2 separate regions of the Homo sapiens genome follow, and region 2 is linked to region 1. Evidence: fine-mapped expression QTL. A gene starts in region 1. The other region holds a variant in brackets. All regions are shown on one strand. Distances are between the middles of the regions. Region 1 holds the start of TIMM10B (translocase of inner mitochondrial membrane 10B). Region 2 overlaps DNHD1 (dynein heavy chain domain 1).

Region 1 (2,917 bases):
TCTCTCTTCTGTGGCCACTAACTTCCCAAGGAGGCAGTGCCCAAAAGCCCTGTGGTTTTTTGATCCGTTGTACTTCGATAGCTCCTCCTTTCCCTAGATCCAGCAGAACTCTAGACATGTAAGACATAGTTCACAAAACAACAGTTATGAACCAACAAATACTTGGCTCACGGTTATGAGCCACTGAAGTCAGTCAGACTTAAGGACAACTAGACAGAGCTCCCATTTTCTGTCATCTGGGCAGGAACCAATCTCCTGTTGTATAAAATGACCTTCTGGTACTTTCTGGAATCTTGCTTCCTCATCTGTTAAGTGAGGCTAATACCGCTTACTCATAGTTTTGTTGTGAAGATGAACTAAGAGCATGACATATTACCCGTTTTAAAATTGTACACACAGACCCTGCTTTAACCAGATGCCTGCAAATGCTCAGGTTTTCCTTCTACATATAGAAAACAATTTCTCAGCTGCCAGGGCTGAAGCCAGCAGATATGCACTAAACGACAGAACAACGGATTGTGCCAATAAAGTAGGCAAAGCTTCCTTGCCCAGAATATAAATCAAACTGAGTAAAAACTGGGTATATTGGCTCCAGGAAAAGGAGCAAGGACACCCAGCTTTCAGGCAACCTCGAATTCTCTCTGTTTAGGATTCACCAACCCCAAGGTCCACCGGGTCCTTCAATCTGAGGGTCCATCCAAGGCCTTCCTTCCTGGGGTTGGGTATGGCTAGCTGCCTGATGGAGAGACCCCAGGCTGTTCAGCAGCAACGCCTGGCACAGCCGAGGCAGCCTCGTAGTCTGCGATGCGGCGCTGTACCAGGGCAGGCATGAGCTGCACGTAAGCGGCCATGAGGCGGTGGTTGGAATGGATCAGCTTCCCAGCACAGCTGTGCAGACAGGCCTCCTAGAAGGAAGATAGGGTTTAAGTGGAGGATAAAGGTGCCCTGTCGGGTCCGCCTCCTTTCTTCCCCATGCCCAGCCTAGGGGTGAGGGTCGTGGGAAGGCCAGGGCCAGAGGTACGGGAAGTGGGGTGAGGAGGGAAGCAGTCTACCGCTAAACTCTTCTTGCAGCGTAACCTCCCTACACAGTTCCCCACCTCCTCAGCGTCCAGAGCTCGGTGGTGCAAGCTGGGCACACAGCGCTGGAAGCAGAGTTCTGTCATCCGATTGTAGACCAACAGGAAGTCACGCAGCTGAGAGAAAAGGGGGACCACAAACTCAGCGATAAGGGCCCCACACTTCTAGTCAAGGTCGCGCCGCCCAAAGTTTCCCAGGCCCGCGCGCCATAGCCCGAAGTTTCCAGCCCTCAAATCCCTGGCCCTGTGGGGTTCCCGCGATGTGTGCAGGAATGCGAGCTGAACGTCTGGCCTCGAAACGACTTAGTTCTCACTTACGTTTCGCAGTTGCTGTTGCTGCTGCTGCTGCCGCTCCATCACGCCACCGGCGCATGCCGTACGCCACTTCCGTTTCAGCTTCTCGGTGCCGCCCCGGAAGTAACCTCTCGCTGATCTCGAGAGCTAGCTCGAGTATCGCCCTGCCCTGGCTGCGACGTCAGCTCCGCCCTTATAATCTGCGACGTGGCCGGCTTCTTCTGCCCGGAGAGGACGTCATTTCCGCCGAGTCCCTGACCTGCTGCTAGGATCGCGACGGGAACTGGAGCCCGAGGTCCCCGCGCGGCCCGGGCCTGGCGCCCTGAGGGGAAGAGCGGCCCGGCCCGAGGTGAGAGGAACATGCTTGGGCGACGGGAAGTTGAACGCACAAACCTGTCCAGAGGGCAAGATGCCCCGAGCCCCGGGGAAGGATGAGGACACACCTGATGTCCAGGTGTATGGGGGTGGGGGCGGGGACTCACACACCTGGGAGACATAACTGACTGTGGAAGGGTCACCGATATCCTGGGAGAGAGAGGCTTTTACCAGAGACTGGGAACATACACCCACTGATCTAACTAAGGCCTGGTGGGGAGGGCCCGAGGAAGACGAGGTGTATGAGACGGAGGAGGGGAGACCCCCTGAAGGAAGGGGGAAGAAACGCTAAAGGAATGTGAAAGGCCAAGCAATGGAGAACAAACCTGAATAGGGGGGTGAAGACCTGAGCCCTGGAAAGGGTTCATCTCCTCAGCATAAACACGCCTGCATGGAGATAAGTTCTAAGAGAGCAGACTTTCCCTCTTCACTGTTGTATTTTCATTGTCACAAATAGTGCCTGACACATAGTAGGCACTCACTAAATGTCTGCTGAATGAGTGTAGAAATAATCACCAGAGTCCTGGTGAGGTTGGGGGCTTGTGAGAAGACACCGTGCTTTGGTGTGCCTGTTTCAAATGTGCGTTTTGGAGGGGAGAAATACATATATCTGAAGAAAGGAATGATGGCCAAACGCTGGGACACTCAAACCCTGGGACAGCCTTTAAAGAAATGACAGAGGAGGCCTCCTTCTTCTAGAGTGCTGGCCAGTGTCCAGAACTTCTGTGTTGGGCTTTGCAGGGTGCTGGGGTGGAGAGTTTTACTCCAATACCTTTCCTAGCCATGACGGACGGGATCCTAGGGAAGGCAGCCACAATGGAGATCCCTATCCACGGGAACGGCGAAGCCAGGCAGCTTCCTGAAGATGATGGGCTGGAGCAGGTGCTTCTGTTTGATTCTTCTAATTGTTTCAATTTAGGAATCCAATTTATAAATCCTAGGTTCTCACCCTCCATTCCAGTAGCCTTCCCCTGACTTATCTGACTCCCTTCATTCTTTTTACGTATCATTTTGATTCTGTGCAGACTTCCCTTGTGTACTATCTTTATGATGCTTGAATCCAAACTTGTTCCCACCTCCAAAATGCTTCTGCAGCCCCTATGTTCCTGAAGCAACCCCTCTTCTCTGGCCTATAGGACCTCCAGCAGGTGATGGTGTCAGGACCCAACCTC
Region 2 (2,917 bases), 27 kb before region 1:
ATGCTCCCTAATGTCTTCCACCTAAACCACTGCATTCCTTCAATACTTCCTGCTTAGGCCCTTTAGGCAACTGAATTTGCAACTCCTGTCACAGAATATACCTAAGAGTAGCTGAGGAGTCATGTAGGGAAAGCAAGGAAATACTGAAAATAGGAATAACCAACCTTTTCCAAAAAAAAGAAAAATAGAATCCAAGTAATATCTTGGAAAGAACACAGAGTTTGGATTCAAACAACTGAATTAGACCCCCAGATCTGACATTACACATAATTACGTGAGTGCAAGTGGTTTAAGATATATAATTACCTGGAGAATATTGCATATATTCTCCATAGAGAATATATTCTATTCATGAAATAGAATATAATCTAGTTCAGAATATATGTTCAAAGAAAAAACTGGTTATTTAACAGTATGTAAGGTATGATCACATTTTGTGTATGTGATAGAAAAAAGACTAGAAAGATATGCAACAAAATGTTCATAGTGGTTGGTAGGATTAAAGGTTTTTTCTTAGTGCTTTTTTGTATCTTTCAGATTTTCTACAACAAACATACTATTACCTTTAGTAAAACTAATTTTTAAAAACTCAATGAAGTTGTGTTTTTAATACCTCACCTGCTAATATGGAGTAGCCCAGCTCCAAAGTGGGGCACAGCCAAGAGCAGATGATTCTCTAGGAATTTCTGGAGTCGATGCAGCCCCTGTAATCTCACATTCTTCTTCCAACTAGAAATTAGAGGTCAGTGATAATATACTGTTGCTGTCATCCATTTCCCCCCAAATCACATATCCGTCATTACCTACCAGGTAAAGGACTTGCGTAAGAGGCAATACTTAAAGAATGGAATGAACTGGAGCTGCTGCCAGAGAACACAGTGATGGTGCCAGGTACCCAGTGTCATCGTCTCGCTACCTTCCACAGGATGTACATGCAAGATCCCAAAGGGAGAGAAGATGTAGTGCTCGGGATTCACCTTGTCGGGTGGCACCACCATCAGGCTGTAAGGCCTTTAAAAAAAGAGCTCTGATCAGTGAAGGCCCTGGGAACGTGGTCAGACTTTAAGAGACCAAAGGAGGATACAGGAGATGAAAAAGGGGAACAGGAAGGCAGGCAGAAGAAAGGAGAAAAAGGGGCAAAGAGAGCAGAATGATTTTTAAACTAGAAAGATGAAACAAATATTATTAAGAAGAAACCGAAGCCAAAGGTAGATGGGAAGAAAGAAAAAGGCACCTAGCCAGCTCCAAGAAGTTCATATCTTCAAATGCAGATATCTTACATCCCATCAGATCTAAGACACTGTCCACCGTAAGCTGCAGCATTATCTTATGAAATGCTAAGATAAAAATGCTTCTAATAAGATATTCCATCAATTTGTAAGATGCATCACAATTTTAGAGATGATGAAATGTGAAAAATCCTCATTCTAGACATGATAAAATACACATATACTTGGGTACTGAAAGACATGCAGAGA[C/T]AATCAGAATGTTATTTGATGGAAAAACTGAGATTGGAGAAAAGCAGAGGAAGACTAGAAAATTCGAAACAGGCAAATAAAGAGGAAAATTGCAACCTAATGTACTAGACAAGTACCTTCAGAGCCATCTTAAAATCTTAGTTGGTCTTGGGTTCTCTTACTTCAGCAAAATGCACCTATATCCCACATTAAATGCAATATATATAGATTGATATAATAGGTGTATCTAGTTACAGTAGGCCAGTTAGCATAATGCTATGTTTAGATACATTTAATAAAGCATTTATTAATTTTTATTTTTCAGTTTTCTTTATATAACTCAGAGCTAGCAATATTTTTAAGCATTACATATATTTTTAGCAATTTAAAAGCTGTATCCTAAGTCCTATAATGTCTAAGAGATAAAATAGCTCTCCTCTATCTCTCATCTCTCTCAACTTTCTAGAAAACATTGTTAAGCAAGTGACTTAAGAACTTTTAGATAGATACCAGAATGGACACACTAAGTCAAGTCATACAAAAACCTTGTTTTGTTTTTGACAAAGTTACTAAAGTTTCTTAAGTATAGTACTCATATCCCCAAATTACAGATAGGAAAACTGAAACAAAGAGAAGTTAAAGCTTTGCCCAAGACAGTTAAGGGAAGAATACAGGATTTAAAACCAAAGTTACCTGACTCATGCCCCCTCCTTTAATCAGTGGGCCATTTAGCTTCCCACAGTGTAGCTGCCTATGTTAACTGAGCCCTGGCTCTTCCCAAGAGATATTTCCTTTTCCTATGACCTACTTAATGGAGGCTGCTGTTTCTGTGTAGGGCCAGGAGTTATACAGTACTCTTCTCATTCCCAATGGCCACTACTCCTTTGGAGTATAAAATATACTCCAAATATATATGTAATGCTTAAAAATATTGCTAGCTCTGAGTTATATAAAGAAAACTGAAAAATAAAAATAAATGCTTTATTAAATGTATCTAAACATAGCATTATGCTAACTGGCCTACTGTAACTAGATACACCTATTATATCAATCCATATGTATTGCATTTAATGTGGGATATAGGTGCATTTTGCTGAATATCCTTTGGAGGATATTCACTCATTCTACAAATGCTTATTAAGGCAAGCAGTGTGTAAGCCACTGAGGATACAGCAGTGTTCAAGAAAAATCCAGTCCCTGACTTTATGGAACTTAGTTAAACCGTTTATCAAGTTGTCCCTCTGTTCAAGTATTGTGGTCAGAGATGGGGACATAAAGATGACTTCTACATAGTCCTTGTCCTCAAAGGGCTCAGAATCAACTGGAGTATGACATGATACTAGAGAGTAGATGGGGGAAATCAGTATCTTCCTGAGTCCCAGAACCAAAGATTCAGCTGTTTCCAAAACATCTCAAACTCCATCTTGCTTGCACCTGAAACTCAGCAAGTTCTGTACTAA

The links.
Region 2: its variant is fine-mapped to the expression of TIMM10B in esophagus muscle (GTEx, PIP 0.95).

Annotation. Positions count from the first base shown.
Region 1 is chr11:6,480,033-6,482,949 of GRCh38, reverse strand. It overlaps TIMM10B (translocase of inner mitochondrial membrane 10B), which reads right to left and starts at 1,449. Exons shown (of 3, transcript NM_012192.4): 1 at 1,395-1,449; 2 at 1,098-1,193; 3 at 1-905. The coding sequence starts at 1,433. The coding sequence ends at 729. It overlaps ARFIP2 (ARF interacting protein 2), which reads left to right and starts at 1,619. Exons shown (of 8, transcript NM_001376558.2): 1 at 1,619-1,719; 2 at 2,487-2,627; 3 at 2,882-2,917. The coding sequence starts at 2,529. RefSeq lists enhancers at 1,341-1,390, 1,871-1,990, 827-2,026.
Region 2 is chr11:6,506,974-6,509,890 of GRCh38, reverse strand. It overlaps DNHD1 (dynein heavy chain domain 1), which reads right to left. Exons shown (of 43, transcript NM_144666.3): 5 at 808-1,011; 6 at 619-729. Among named protein-coding and RNA genes, the nearest start is that of DNHD1, 11 kb to the right of the region's middle. The variant C/T (reference allele first, on the strand shown) is at 1,479.